2 separate regions of the Homo sapiens genome follow, and region 2 is linked to region 1. Evidence: fine-mapped expression QTL. Tissue or cell type: whole blood. Region 1 holds a variant in brackets; the other region holds the start of a gene. All regions are shown on one strand. Distances are from middle to middle.

Region 1 (8,104 bases):
CAGGATCAGTATATTGTCAGTATAGTACAAACCAAACAAATCCAAAAAACAATAGCAGCAACAAATTCACCACACCAACTACTGGGGTAAACTGATGCACAGTCAAAACGGTCTCTTTGGAACTCTCAGTAGACACAGGTTTAGTGGAAAAGCCCATTTGTCTGTGTTTTATCAGAGCAGTTAAATAAAGAAGAAAGATGCTGTGGAAACATAATCGGGAAGTTTTCCTTTTTCTTTAACTCACAACAACATGGCCTTCCTTCAAGCCTAGGGGTTTGTGAGTTCCTGAATTTTTTTATAAGGAAAGTAGAACTCAAATAACCAAAGCTTGTGTCTCTTGCTGTCACCATCACCACCAGAGAGCAAGTTTTATAGGGATCAGCTCAAGGCCACATATGCAACTGCCCCTCCAGGGAAATGTGGGTTAGTGGGCTCTTCCATCTCAGAGGTATTCCATGGCATGATGTAGCCCAGGACAGACATACATAATTAATAACAATGTCTGGTAACCCTGGGGATCAGGAAAGGGCCATCTTATAATGAGCTCTTTTGGTGATGTTTATAAAAAGGTCTCTTTGAACAGATGGGATCAAAGAGATCTCTTCCTTGTGCTGACTTTTTTTCCTTTTAAGTGAGGTATAAAACACATACTCTACAGTGCATAATGTACACTCATCCTAAGTGTACAATTCCATTAATCGGTTACATGTGTACACCCATATAATTAACACCCAGGTAAAGATATAGAGCATTTCCAGAATGTCAGGTTTCCTTATGCTTCTTCTCCATCAGTTCCCCATCCCCACCTGAGAGAGAAGCTCAATGCTAACTCCTGTCACCGTTGATTAGTTTTGCCTGTTCTTGAACTTCATAGACGTGGAATCATGCCTTGTGCTGAATCTTGTTTAAGACCATTAAAGTCAAGTCCAGTGAGTGTCCTTCCTTTCTTTCTTAGGCCTTTTTAGAGATGGCTTACACAGAAGCTGCACAGGCCATGGTCCAGTATTATCAAGAAAAATCTGCTGTGATCAATGGTGAGAAGTTGCTCATTCGGATGTCCAAGAGATACAAGGAATTGCAGCTCAAGGTAAAGCATTATCTTGCTCATTCAGTCATTCAACAAGCACCAGATGAGTTTCTCCTCCGTGTTAGGCACTGACCTAAACGCTGGTGGAAAGGAGAGGATAGGAAAAGATTCAGAAATTACACACTGCCTTTGAGGATCTCGAGGCAAACCATTGCAGCATGGCAAGAAAAGTGCTCTTGAGGTAAATACAAAGTGCAAAGAGACGCCTGAGACTACCTGGGAGCCAAGGAAAGTTTTCCAGAAGAAGATGTTCACAGGGGAACTTTTAAAGGAGGAAGTCAGAAGGGAAAGGTGCTGAGAGTTCCAGGCATAAACCCTTGAATACAACCTTCTCTCCCTATACAGACCTTCAGTAACATTTTCTTCTTCTGTCACCCCCTTGATCTCTTGTTCTCTTCTCTCTCCTTCATATTTACGTCTTAAGCCTCATAGAAGTCCTTCTAAGCAGCCCTTGGCTGAATTGGCCACTGTCAGAACTCAGGGATGCATTCAAATAGTTCCAAACCAGGGTTTGCTTTTGTTTTAGCTGATCTACGTTTCTTTCTTTTCTTTCCTTCTTTTTTGTTTTATTGTGAAGTATAACAGAACACACAGAAAAATGGCTGATTATATATTGTATGGTTTAAAAAGTAATAATGGGTGAGATCTCACAAATCCCGTAAAACCACCACCAAAGTCAAGAAATAGAATATGGACAGCATCCAGAAGCTCCCGTGAGTCCCTCCTCCTGTTCAACCCCTCCCTCTCTACTCTCCTGACTTCAATGATAATCATATCTGTGCTTTTCCTTATAGTTCTATCACCTGTATATGCCTCCCTAAACATTATGGTTTAGTTTTGCCTGTTTTTGAACTTTATATAAATGGAATTATGCTGTGTTCTTACAGATCTTGCTTCTTTCATTCAACATGATGCCATCCATGTTGTTGGGCATGTCTATTTATTTTCATTGTTATATACATTTCCATTGTATGGCTATACAGTTTATCCATTCTACTGTTGATGGACATTTGAGTTGTTTTAGGGACAAGGCTAATCTGAACCTTCTCAAACATGTCATCCTGGTATATATGCACTTGAGCATATAACTAGAGGTACATACATAACTAAGATTGAGATAGCTGCATCATAAGGCATGCTTACCTCAACTTTCCTAGATGATAGCAAGCTCTTTCCAAAATTAGTTGTCTCAAATTTATACTCCTACTAGTAGTGTATTAGAGTTTTCGGCCGGGCGTGGTGGCTCACCCCTGTAATCCCAGCACTTTGGGAGACCAAGGTGGGTGGATCACGAGGTCAGGGGTTCAAGAGCAGCCTGGCCAACATGGTGAAACCCCGTCTCTACTAAAAATACAAAAATTAGCCAGGCGTGGTGGCAGGCGCCTGTAATCTCAGCTACTCGGGAGGCTGAGGCAGGAGAATCGCTTTAACCTGGGAGGCAGAGGTTGCAGTGAGCCAAGATTGTGCCACTGCACTCTAGCCTGGGCAACAAAAGTGAAACTCCGTCTCAAAAAAAAAAAAAAAGTTTTCAATGGTCCACATTCTTGCTAACACATTGTCTTGTCCAACTTTTAAATTTTTGCCTGTCGTGGGAGAGTATCATGGTTTATCACAGTTTTGTTTTGTTTTGTTTTTGAGACGGAGTCTTGCTCTGTCACCAGGCTGGAGCGCAGTGGTGCAATTTTGGCTCACTGCAATCTCCACCTCCCAGGTTCAAGCAATTCTCCTTCCCCACCTCCCGAGTAGCTGGGACTACAGGCACACACCACCATGCCTGGCTACTTTTTTTTTTTTTTTTTTTGTATTTTAATAGAGACAGGGTTTCGCCATATTGGCCAGGATGGTCTCAATATCCTGACCTTATGATCTGCCCGCCTCAGCCTCCCAAAGTGCTGGGATTACAAGCGTGAACCACCGTGCCTGGCCAGTTTATCACAGTTTTATATTTTATTCCCCTAATTGCGCATGGAGATTGAGCACTTTTTCATCTGTTTGTTGGCTGTTCCATCTGGATCTTCTCTGATGGGCTGTTTCTTTTCAGGTCATCTGCCCATGCTTTTCTTTTGCATTGTGTCTTCTTATTGGTTTGCAGGAGTTCTCTTAACTGGAGCACGTAGTCTATTTGGATTTCTTGTAATTAATGCTGTATTAGTGTTTGAATCTACCCTCTTATTTTGTGCTTTCTACTGTTCCATTTAATAGGGATTTTCCCGTTCACTTTAGCTCATTCCACATTGACTTAGGGTCCATTTTGTCTAAGACCCACAGGCCTTAATCCACCTTCAAGGTTGAAGTTAGAAGACAAAGGCTTAGTGGATGTTTCTGGCTAGGACTGGCATTCTGACAAGTCTCCATATGTAGATGGGCACTGTGTCAACCAGCTTCCAGAGTCCTGAATCTGCTTTGCTTGCATCATTGCCTCTGAAATTCCTTTACTAACAGTTCTCCTTCAGGCAGAACCTGGCTTTTTTTTTTTTTTTTTTCCTAATAAAAGTATATTGCTTCTTTCAGACAAGTAAGCATCCCACCCCATTCTATATCCAACCAAAGTTCCTGGTCTCCTGGATTCTTCCCTGGGGGCTGGAATTGAATTTCTACACTAAGTTCCCAGTAGAGCTTTGGTCTCCAAATGAGATGTTGTCATAAGTTTCTAATTAGGATTAACGGCAGTAATTGGCTTCTTAAATTAAAGTACCAAAGCATAGCAATACCTTCCTGAGGGAGATAGTTTGGGGTGGTGCAAAAAACATGGGTTAAAGAGGTCAGATGGTCGAGTTTTGCTTTCAGCAAATGTGCACTGAGTGCTCACCGTGGGTGGAACTGGGCCAGGTGCCATGGAGGGAGAAGTAGCAAGCTGGCGAGGAGCTCAGTCTGGTGGGAGAAAA[A/G]GCAAATAAACAAAGAACCACTGACAACCATGTGACCTATCCTAGATTGGAAGATGGTGATGTCAGCCTGGGCTCTACCGCTTCCTGCTTTAGTGAGCTTAGAAAAGTTGCTTAACCTCTGTGAACCTCAGTTTACAGATCAGGAAAGGACTATACTTTGAGTTATTTGGCTTTAAGTATTTTTTTTCATACATTATCTTTTCAGTCTCGTAATCACTGTACCCTGTGAAGTGTGTAGGGTGTATAATAGCAGTAATTATAAGAGTACAACAATAACAATAATGTATACCTTTAATTGAGTCCCGGTACTCTGGGGCAAAGAAGTTTACATACATTATTTAATCCTGACATCAGTCCTGTTAGACAGGTATTATTATCTCAGTTTTACAGATGAGGAATCTGAAGCTAATAGAAATTCAGGAACTTGCCCAGGATTGTACTTAGCTACTGGAAGAGCTATGATTAAAACTTAGTGCTGTTTTGGTTTTGCACTAAAGCTGCATTGTTATAGTGTGTTATCATGATCTCTGTTGTCTATGTGAAAAAAACCTGAGAAATCAGGTAATTTGCTTATAGTCACCCAGCCAAGAAGCCGCAGAGATAGTATTCTAACAGAGCTTCTCAAGCTTCAGTGTGCATACAGATCACTTGGTGATGTTGTGAAAACTCACTTTGATTCAGCATATCTAGGGTAGTGCTGTTATTGCGTATTTCTAACGAGGTCCCAGGAGATGCTGCTGCTGGTGGTCCTCGGAGAACACTTTGAATAGAAAGGGCGCAGAACACATTATTTTCTGATCTTTAGCAGGGCTTTTCTGCTCCCCAAGCTGCCATATTCCCTCTTAAGGCATTGTGAAGGTCGCATGGAATAACAGATGTGAAAACAACTTAATGTATGTCTCAACTACATAGTAATGCATGCTTTATGGTCCCTATGTTGATATGAATCAGCTGCCACTCTGTCTGCACGTAACAGAAATTCATCTCCATTAAGCCTGTTGGCTTAAGCAAAAAAAAAAAAAAAAAAAAAAAAAAAGAATTTATGGATGCATGTAAATGAAACGTCCAGGAGTAGATCTGGCTGCAGGTGCGGCTGGATTCAGGACCCAGAGACCCTCATTAGGACTTGGTTTCTCTCCACGCTGCCTTCTGCTCTTTTGGCTTTGTTTACTGGGGGCTCCCTGGGATGGGCCGTAGCAGCCCAGGCTCTCTCCTCTAGGTGGCATGATGGCTACAGTGACCTCAGCAGCTCTTTCTCCCCCTTCCCTTTCCTTCAACAAGAGAAAGCCAGAGTTTTTTCCTAGAAGCTCCCACAAAAGTCCTGAGACTTTTGAGAGAGAGTCGCTCTGACTGGACTAGCTTAGCACAGGTGCACATTCCTGAATTGATCTCTGGCCAGGGCTAGGCCATGCTGTGATTGGCTGGACCTGTGTCATCTGCTACATCCTCAGAGCTGGGACAGAGACCCACCTAGAGCTCTGGAGCAAGATGAGGGAGGAACAGCTGCTATCAGGAGGAGGGAGAGTGGCTACCGGGAAGGTAGAGGGCAAACACTGTATCCATGTGTGTCTCTGGGCCAAAGGGGCTGCATATGAGGTCCCACCAGGGTTTGCAGAGGTGGGGAGAAATTCTGATTGCTCTTTCTCCTCTAACTTTATCTTTTGCTCACCAGGTAAAGTATAGGGAGAGAAGGGAGAGATTTTAAGGTATTTTTCATTTCCTCTCTTGAATATTTCTTCATGCACATATCTTATCTCCCCATATACTTCCTGTGGCAAGGGAGTTCCTCAGCTTATTTGAGGCAGAACCTTTCACATGATAGATGTTTAATAAATATGCAAAATGAATAAGAAAGAGAAAATCTGAAGGAACAACAAAAAGTGAGTAGCCTTCTTCCTGCAGACCTGGACAAGATGATTGGAATATATTCTGGGTTGTTCTATGGAAACTTCGTCAATAAGTATGGAATCATAATCTCTCTGATGCAGAAGTGAACTTGGAATAATTTAAACCAGTGTCTCCCAGTCACTTCATCAGAGGGTCATCAGGGGATTTTTTGTGGGGGGAGTCCTCTTGCCCAGAGATTCTCTTCAATAGGCTTCGGGTGGGAATGAGACTCCCAGGTGCTTTTGAGGGCAGAGGGTCTGGTTTCAGAGCCATTGGTCTTGCCAGCCTCCTCGCTACAGAGAGGGCTTCTGGCCCTGGGAAGCAGTCTTGTGAATGGTCCATGGTGCTCTCAGTTGGGAAGATGATTGAGAGTCTTCTCTATGTGCTGATAGTTACAAAGCAATACAAGACATGGTTCTCAGTTGGGAAGAGTTCACTCTCCAACTGGGAGACAAATTATTCTTGTGCAAAATTACACAAGATTTAAACATGAGTGCATAAGTACAGGAGCTACCAGAAGTTCCATGGCAAAAGGCAGTGTGACTGAGGGGTGTGAAAAAGGGAAGAGATTCCTAAACAAGGCCTTGAAGAAGGGGAGAATTAGCTAAAGAGAGACAGAGCTTCCAGGCAGGAGTCGGGTGAGTGATGATGTCGAGCCTAGAAAGCCTGGTAATGTTGAAACAGTCAGGGCTGCCTTGACAGGATCTGGCTCAGATGAGTTCTGGGCTCATCTAGAAGGTTTCAGTGTCTTCCCAGGACTCTTGAAGTGTGTAAAACAGGTGTGGAGTTGTCAGAGGGCATGAAACTTTCCAGCAGCTCCCTTCATGTTGGCCAAGCACTCTGTGACTTTTACGGGTGTAGCCTGCCATGCCCTGAGGCTTTTGGTGGATGCCAGATGGGCCTCATTAACCCACCTTCACTGGTGGAGAAAGTGAGTTTCCCATCGGCAATAAGCCTTGACCCAGGGTGACCTAGCCAGGTGCGGGCAGGGCTGGGGCTGCTCTTCCTGGGTTGAGATTCCTAGTGGTGGTGCCTCCCTCTTAATATGCCAGCACTTTTCTAGGACTGCATGGGGCTTGGAATCTCACCCTTGTCTTAAAAGCAGCAAGATGTGTTAACTCTGAGCACTGTAGTTGGTCCCTTGTGGGGCTGTTGAGCGGAATCATTGTCATCACAGAATGGATGTAAAGATAACAATGTCTGACGTTTGCTTCAAAATAATATAGGGGGTGGGGAAGGAGGGTGGTGAGTACAGATGTGTATTAGTCCGTTCTCACACTGCTTTAAAGAACTGCCTGAGGCCAGGCCGTGGTGGCTCACGCCTGTAATCCCAGCACTTTGGGAGGCCGAGGTGGGCGGATCACTTGAGGTCAGGGGTTCAAGAGCAGCCTGACCAACATGGTGAAACCTAAACTAAAAATACAAAAATTAGCCAGGTGTGGTGGCGGGCACCTGTAATCCCAGATGCTTGGGAAGCTGAGGCAGGAGAATCGCTTGAACCCAGAAGGCAGAGGTTGCAGTGAGCCAAGGTCGCACCACTGCACTCCAGCCTGGGACACAGTGTGAGACTCCGTCTCAAAAAAAAAAAAAAGAACTACCTGAAACTGGGTAATTTATAAAGAAAAGAGCTTTAATTGGCTCATGGTTCCACAGGCTGCATAGGAAACATGGCTGTGGAGGCCTCAGAAAACTTACAGTCGTGGCAGAAGGCAAAGGGGAAGCAGACATGTCTTTCATGGCCAGAGCAGGAGTTAGAGTGGGAGCAGGGAGGTGCTACACACTTTTAAACAGCCAGATCTCGTGAGAACTCTGTCACGAGAGTAGTACTGGGGGATGGTGCTAAACCATTAAAAACCACCCACATGATCCAGTCACCTCCCACCAGGCCCCACCTTCAACATCTGGGATTACAATTGAACATGAGATTTGGGTGGGGACACAGAACCAAACCATATCAAAATGCAACAAGATTAGTCATCATTGTTGGCTGAAGATGGGTAATGGATTCTTCGGGGTTCAGTAAACCATTCTCTCTACTTTTGTGTATGTTTGAAATTTTCTACAATGAAAAGGTAACCAAAATTTTATCATAGACCTACTCTTTTCTCTCCCATTTCAATTTTTCTGGGGTGATTACAGCTTTGTTTCACCTGCCTTCTTTATGCCTTTACCCACAGAATACAGAAGCTGGCCAAAGAGGAAGGTGGAGAGAATTTTCTTAGGGCTTTCCGAAGTCAATTCTCTT
Region 2 (8,104 bases), 68 kb after region 1:
CCCTAAGAATGAAAAGGCCTTGGAGAGTTCCAAAGGCATTAATAGTAAATCTAGGTGCTTATCTTTTGCCTTCAACTGTGCTTTTTCAAGTACTTTACCCAAATTAATTAATTAGTGCTCCTAAACCCACACCAGCCATCACTTTGCCTTTGGGATGGAGGGAGGTGATATTATCTGAGCTTTGCATTAGGAGAAAGCCCCTGGGTTGACAGTCCCTCTGTCCATACCCGGTGGAATCCTCTCCTGCCAACAGTGGCAAACTCCTTTGTTTGTTTGTTTTGAGGTGGAGTCTGTCTCTGTCACCCAGGCTGGAGTGCAGTGGCGGGATCTCAGCTCACTGCAACCTTCGCCTCCTAGGTTCAAGAGATTCTCCTGCCTCAGTCTCCTGAATAGCTGGGACTACAGGCATGCACCACCACGCCCAGCTAATTTTTTTGTATTTTTAGTAGAGATGGGGTTTCACCATGTTGGTCAGGCTGGTCTCAAACTCCTGGCCTCAAGTGATCCGCCCACCTTGGCCTCCTAAAGTGCTGGGATTACAGGCATGAGCTACCACACCCGGCCAGCAAACTTTCTTATCTCTTGTTCTCCATTCCCAGGACTCCCATGGTACCAACTCAGTACCTTGCTCAGCATCCCAGGGTGTTAGAACTGAATGGCTGCTTATGGACTCCCTGCAATGGGCACCTCCTTCTTTTACAGCACAGAAAATTGAAGCATTCAATTCACTCAGGGAGAGGAAGTGAAACACCCAAAGCAACACAGCTAGTTAGGGACAGGGTCACTACCTTGTCTTAAGAGGCGAAAAATAGGAACTATCTCCCACCCTCTCCCCTGACAAAACCAAACACTCTTTGCGCCCCTCCAAGTATCTCAATACTGCTTAAGCCTGAGGAGTACGGGGAAGATGAAGTATGTAACGTTTATCTACTCACAAAGCACAGAGTTTCTGTTGCCACCTCTGAGCAGCTGTCTTGTTCTGGGCAACTGTGATCTCCCTTCCTCTCCTAAGCTCTTGGAATGAATCTTTCTTAAGGGAAATGGAAGTTGCAATTCCATTATTCTGTATAGAGTGAGTTAAGGGGAAGGCCTCTCTCCTTTTCTGTCATCTAATAGCTAAATTAACATAAGCCCATAGGCACAGGGATTCAGGTAACAGAAACCTAGTTTGTGACAATTACAACGTGAAATGAAAACATACATTGTGGCCCAGAAGCCCGGGCAGCCCTAGGCTTCAGATATTACCTACCCTAAAGTAGTATAATGCCTTTTACCAAGAACACAGCTGAATCAACTGTGCTTTTCATAGAACAGGCACACACTAAAATATTTGTGGATTGATTTGGTAGGCAAAAATTCTTGGCACTTGGATACTTCTCCATTTTCAGCTTATTCTTAAAAAAATTTTTTTTGTTAAATGTTCAGCTGCAAAGGCACAGGTGACTAAGTGTTCAACACAGCTGGAAGGAATGTTGGTGACAGTGGCTGTCATCTATATTTCCCAAGTTGGTTTCTAAATAACACTGCTTCTGGGGTATCTTGAGAAAAAAAGGTTCTGTGTTTAAACAAGGTAGGAAACATTACTAATCTTCCTACCTTGGTCTCCCAAGACACTAAAGGCACATAGCTTATTAAAAACACTGAGAAGGCTGGGCACGGTGGCTCATGCCTGTAACCCCAGCACTTTGGGAGGCCGAGGAGGGCAGATCACTTGAGATCAGGGGTTCGAGACCAGCCTGGCCAACATGGTGAAACCTCAACTCTACTACAAATATAAATATTAGCCAGGCGTGGTGGCAGGCGCCTATAATCCCAGTTACTGGGGAGGCTGAGGCAGGAGAATCACTTGAATCCAGGAGGCACAGGTTGCAGTGAGTCAAAATAGTGCCATTACACTCCAAACTGGGCGACAAGAGCAAAACTTCATCTCAAAAAACAAACAAACAAACAAAAAACCACTGAGAAGAGTTGTGGGTAAAGAAACAGTTTTATTTTTGTTTAAACGAGTTATTTCCAAGACCATTTGACCATGGAACAATCCCTCCCACATTTTTTTTTGCATGATATCTATTAAAGTTCCACAAAATTCATGTTCTTTGGAAAATAACTTGGGAATTACTGATTGAGCCCAATTTCTGAATTTTATTGGTAAAGAAAAAGGTCCTGAGAGGGGCTGAAGTTCTTACAGGAAGTTAGTGGGGGAGGTAGGACGACAACCCTATTTCCTGAGTGTCTGGCCCAACCTTGTCAACCACACGCAAATACGGCAGCATTCTCAAAGGTGGGTTCTGGGATCCCAGCCATCATGGGTACTGCTTGAGATGATACGCAAAAAGGACATGAACGTTTTCCTCCCTAATGGGTCCTTTGGGGGCAATTTGCTAAAACATAACAGGTTGTTTTAGATGCTTCTTAAAATTGGTAATCATATCCCATTCTTTCTTTATCTCATAGAACTCGGGATGCCTACCCAACACAGCCTGATTATGCTATATGTGCTTAGTAAGTACATTCAATGAATGACTAAATGAAAGACAGGGAGGAAGAAGGAAACAGTCCAGAACTGAAAGGGATGAGAAGAGAAAAAATGTGGAGAAAGAGAAGGATGGGTAACAAAGGAGCCAGCAGTCACTGATCAGTAGAGTATAGGTGAGAGAGGGGAAAGGAGACAGCTGCAGATAATGGAAAATAACAAAACAAAACTGAGGTCTGGGAAGCTCCGATTTTAAAAAGTGAACATGAGTTATGAGACTAATTCAGATACTGGCCACACCAGGAGGCCCCCGCCCAGGAGATGAGGATGACCACCAACTGCTGAGAATCTTTGTAAACTCAAATCAAGGTGTATTTATTGCACAGGCACAATAAATGAACAAGGCATCTTAAGTACTACAATGACAGGTGAGTGGGTCAGGCACAGTGGCTCACGCCTGTAATCCCAGCACTTTGGGAGGCCGAGGCAGGCAGATCCCTTGAGCTCAGGAGTTCAAGAGAAGCCTGGGCAACATGGCAAAACCCCATCTCTACTAAAAATACAAAAAACTAGCTGGGTGTGGTGGCACAGGCCTGTAGTCTCAGCTACTTGGAAAGCTGAGGTGGGAGGATGGCTTGACCCCAACAGGTTGAGGCTGCAGTGAGCCAAGATTGCACCACTGCTCTCCAGCCTGGGCAACAGGGCAAGACCCTGTCTCAAAACAACAACAACAACAAAATCACAGATGAGTAAGACACAGGTCTTTCCCTAAACAAGGTTACAGTCTAATGGGCAGAAGGGCTAGGACAGGGACTCAGATGAAATAATGCCAGGTAGAATGTGATCAGTGCCCCTGGAGGTGTGGCAAGCCAACACTGTGAGGAATCAGCGGCAGGAAGATCATATCAAATCACGAGGCTCCAGAAAAACTACGAGGGTCCAGGAATGGTGGCTCACGCTTGTAATCTCAACGCTTTGGGAGGCAGAGGTGGGCTGATTGCTTGAGCCCAGGAGTTCAAGACCAGCCTGGACAACATGATGAAACCCTGTGTGTACAGAAAATACAAAAATTAGCTGGGCATAGTGAGCTGTGCCTGTAGTCCCAGTTACTCAGGAGGCTGAGGTGAGAGGATCGTTGAGCTAGGGAGGCTGACGGAGGTCGAGGCAGCAGTGAGCTGTGATCATGCCACTGCATTCTCCTGGGCTAAAGGGCAAGCCCCTGCCTCAATTAAATAAAACAACAACAACAACAAAATAAAAAACTACCAGGAAGGGCCATGAGGCACAGAAGGATTGCATCAGGCGGAGATAGGAGATGAGAAGAGAGACATTTCAAGGTGATATATAAAGAACTACCAGGGGGTGAGGAAGCATATGGGGAGATGTGTGGAGACACAGCCTGAAAGTCTTGAAGTCACATCACGGAGCCTTGAATGACCGACCGAGGCGCTGACACTCAAGAGAGGCAATGGGAAGCCAGTGAAGGTTTGTGTGTGTGTGTGTGCGTGTGTGTGCAGAGAAATAGTAGCATTAGAGATGATTCCCAGGCAGGGTGACTGGGCAGCCAAGGGAAAGCGCTGGCCTGTGCGGGATGAGGCAGTTGGGTTCTGGAGAGCACAAGCAATCATTCGGTGCTGCCCATCAGACAACTGAAAAATCTGATCAGAGGCAGTGGCTAAGTCCCCGCCTGGGAACACAAAGGAAGCCTAAGGTTCTGGTTATCACCCTCAGGGGACCGTGACCTTGAAAGAGTAAGGATAGTACCAGCCAAAACCAATGCAGCCAAGAGGAAAAGTCACAGAGAACAGCGAGGGGAGGTGGAAGTTTCAATACAGAAATTGTAGCCATGGCTGAGAACCCCAGCACTGGAGGCCGGAATTTGTGCGTTTGAACGCCAGAGGCTTGGCTAGTCATGATTAGCAAAGGAACTTCAAAGAGTTTTGGAGCCTGCTTTATATCTGTGAAATGGGAATTATTTCCATCTCAAAGGTTTGAGGGGATTCGCTGAGAGAAACTTCTTAGCATGGGATCTCCAGAAACTGGAAGCCACAGAGAAAGCAGCGGCCAGAGGGAGGAGGAATCGGACAGGCTGATCACTTGGAGTGTTCGCCTAAGCAGTTTCTAGAAATGGAGGCAGGGACCATCAGGAAGCTCAAAACCTTTGCTTCAGCCGAGTTTGCAGAACGCCCTGTGAGGAGAATGGGTGAGCTGGGTCGAGGAAGCTTCATCCTCGTCCCCATCCCCCAGCACTGCCCTTTTCCCAACGCTCCCATCCCGCCACGCCTCCCAACATACCCCCACCCCGACTTCCCGCTCAACTCCCGCTCCAGCCAGTCCCAGGAGCCACATGCGCATGCGCCCTCCCGCGCCCCTCCCCAACTTTCCACGTTTCACTCCTCTCCCTTTTCCTCCTCAGCTCCGGCTCCGCCGCCACGATTGGCCAGCCGACCACCCGGCCTCGGCCAATAAGCGCCGCCCTCTCGCCCCCGTGTTACTGGGTAGAAGAAAACAAAAACAAACAGAGCGAGAAGGGCCAGAGACTCTCCGAGGCGGCGGCAGAGACAGAAGAGCGGGGTCGGGGCCGGCTGACCAGGAACCTGGGCGAGCAGCGGCGGGGGCCCGAGGGGTCAGTACCAGTAGGCGCGGCTCACACGCTCGGGAAGACTGCGCCCTCTCCCCCATCCCTCCTCGGAGGCAGCCGCAAGATGGGAGGGGGCGGGGGCGGAGGCGTGGGGGTCGCGGTCCTGTCAGGTCCGGGCCTGCGGTGCGGGGGTCCGGCTGCCTTCTTGTAGCCCCGCAGGTCCAGCCGCGCCCTCCCCAACGCCCCGGACTGCGGGCATCCGGCCTGGTTCCCTCTTTCTGAGCCCAGCCTGGAGCGTGTCGGCGCGGGCCCGCCCCCTCCCGGAGCCATCTCCCCACTGAGAGGGGCGCGCGAGGCGCTCGCCCTTGAAGGTCCCCCTCAGCCCTCCTCCCCCTCTGGCGGAGGTTGAATTCGGGGGCCGGGATTGGAAGGCGTGTTTCCGGCTGGACTGAAATCCTGTGAGGAAGATTCGCGCCCTCCCCGCCCCCTGCCCTCCCTGGGAATCCTCTGAAGATGCGGCCCCCTGTCCTTCGTGAACCCGGAGCCCCGGCCTCGGCCCCGGCCCAGCCCCTTCCGGGGGCCGACCCGGGCTGGGACTTCGGGGGTCCTAGCCTGAGCCCGCTGCGGGAGAACAGGCCCGGCCGCTGTGGGGAGGGGCCGCGCGCTATCCTCGCCGGGGGCGCTGGGAGGCGAACACGTGCCCGCCGCCCCATCCCTGCGCGAACTTCGTCGCGCCCGTCTTCCGGCAAAGGGTCTCTTTTTTTTAGTTTAGGTAAAATAAAATCTCCCAGAGAAAACAAAGCCGGGAAGGGAGCCCCCTTTCTGTGAAACGCATGCCATCTTCTCCATTTGTCAGTTTGATGCTGTAACGTACATGGGGTTTTGCAAGAGCTTCAAAACTGTCTGCAGACGTCAATTTCGCCCCCCTCCCCCTTGTGAGAACTCGCTACGTAGCCAGCAACTGTGTAGTGTCTACAAATGATGAAAACGATCAGAAATGCGATTAGGTGTCGGGGAAAAAAGGGTTTCCCCTGTTTTTAACTTGTATTTTTACTTTAATTGTTACAATCTTGATATTCTTAACGTGACTTTTTTGGGAAACCACCAAGTGCTTTTTAAGCAAGGAGTTACTGGTATTTATGCCCTTAATATTCCTTCATTATAGGCTTATTGAATACGTTAATATCTCAGTAAGTGTATTTGAATTATAATTGACTGGCTTTTTCTGTGGTACTAATGTGAAAGGAAAAAATATTAGGACTGCAAAAATAAATGCCGCTTGAATATTATCTGTAGTGCTTGCTTTTGCATTACTGTAGTAGAATGCTTTTAGCTGGTTTTAAGCTGCTAATTAGCCGTTCGTAGCCGAAGAATGAATACAAGTAATCCTAGTTAATAAATGGCCAAAGCTTGACTCCCCAAAATGCCAGAGCAATTTATGAGGTATATTTCAGGAAATACATATGTATATATTTCGTGGGGGAGTGGAGGGTCTGTCTCTTAGGGAATGTCTTGGCAGTTGAATACTTCTGATTGTATATTTCGTGTAACACACTGGAGAAAAGAACAGTGTTTAATGTCAGCCTTCATTTTCTTCTAACTTGTATGTATAGTTTTCTCATCGAAAATTCATTTTTGTAGGTTAGTATGAAGGAAATAGCGTTTGGATTTTTTGCTTTATATTTTCTTGTTTGGGCCAATTAAGGGTTGTTAAATAAATTGGAAAAAATCCTACTACTTTAAAGAGCGTAAAAACGTGGAACATGTCTTATCTAAACTCTTAAAACGTGTTTGTTGCTGTCAAATATGACTTGAGTTCCTGATCGGGTTATCATTGCCTAAAGACACAGGACTATTTTTTTTATTAAGATAACTTTGTTTTTATCTTAATAAAAGAGATGATAGTCATTTCCTGACAGTTTTGTCTGACGGAATGCCTTCTGTATAATAGTTTAAAATAATTATTTTTAGTGTTTGGAAAACAGCATTTAAAAGTTTGAACAGCAGAAGTCTGTTTTAAGAAGCTTCTGTTAACCCTTGAAAAGAATCTTCCTGTGGGATATTAAAATTTTGGATTGAACTTGTGCAAACAGTACTGGATTTGGAAGGTCTGGATTCTCATCCTGGCTGTTCCACTAAGCAGCTGTCTGTCCTTGGACATATCACCTACCCTCTCTGAATCTGTTTAGTTGTGTGTAAGGTGGAATACCTACCCGAAGGTTTTTCTGTAAGGTACATTAAATAATACATGTACAATTCTTTTTGAATTGTAAAGGGCTTTATGAACATCAATTATAATCATTTCGCTTATTAGGTTCTGCAGAAAGTATTCTCTCAAAAGTTATACTTTCATCAAGAATGAAAAAGACTTTGTAATGGAACTCTAAAAAACTGAAACACGTATCATATGACATTATTCCTTTCCTATATGTATTTCATGCATGGAATTAAAACAGAATGTAGCCTTTTCAGCCATGAAGGATGCTGAGTGTTTAGATTTGCAAACCATTTTTGTTCATATATTTATATGAATCTCTACATATTTTTAAGATTTTTTTTTCATATCTAAAGTTGGCGGGAGTTATAGTGAAAAGTGATTATAAAGATTCACATATATTAATTTATTCTTAACAGAATTAGAGAATGATCTCACCATTTTCTTAAGTTCCCAAGCAATATGATAGCATATTAGTCTGAGGATTATACCATAGTAAGAAGCCTATAATTTTAACATAAGGTCCATTTGTTTTTGTTTCACAAAATAATACCGTTTTCTGAAGAAAAGGGCTATAAACTTATGTTAGCAAATAGTAGTACATAATGAGGAATTTAAAAGTCAGTTTCACCTTTGAGTCCCAGGAGGCTCTGTATATATCATTGTTATCCTAAAATGACATCTAACAGTAGGTTAAGTTATATAGGAAAAAATGTGCTTTTCTGTAATTAATTTATTAGGCATTTTCACTAATTTGTGCATTTTATATCTCTGAAGAGCACACTGCTAGCAACCTGATTGTAAATGACCAGAAGGACTTATATCCAACCTATGT

What was found. PIP is the estimated chance that this variant, and not a neighbour inherited with it, causes the effect.
Region 2: it holds the start of PDCD4, and the variant in region 1 is fine-mapped to the expression of PDCD4 in whole blood (TOPMed, PIP 0.97).

Annotation. Positions count from the first base shown.
Region 1 is chr10:110,798,832-110,806,935 of GRCh38, forward strand. It overlaps RBM20 (RNA binding motif protein 20), which reads left to right. Exons shown (of 14, transcript NM_001134363.3): 7 at 956-1,087. Among named protein-coding and RNA genes, the nearest start is that of PDCD4-AS1, 68 kb to the right of the region's middle. The variant A/G (reference allele first, on the strand shown) is at 3,973.
Region 2 is chr10:110,866,920-110,875,023 of GRCh38, forward strand. PDCD4 (programmed cell death 4) reads left to right here and starts at 5,009. Exons shown (of 12, transcript NM_014456.5): 1 at 5,009-5,099. PDCD4-AS1 (PDCD4 antisense RNA 1) reads right to left here and starts at 3,985. Exons shown (of 1, transcript NR_026932.1): 1 at 1,971-3,985. RefSeq lists enhancers at 630-679, 3,507-4,117 and silencers at 800-869, 5,122-5,171, 5,202-5,351, 5,562-5,761.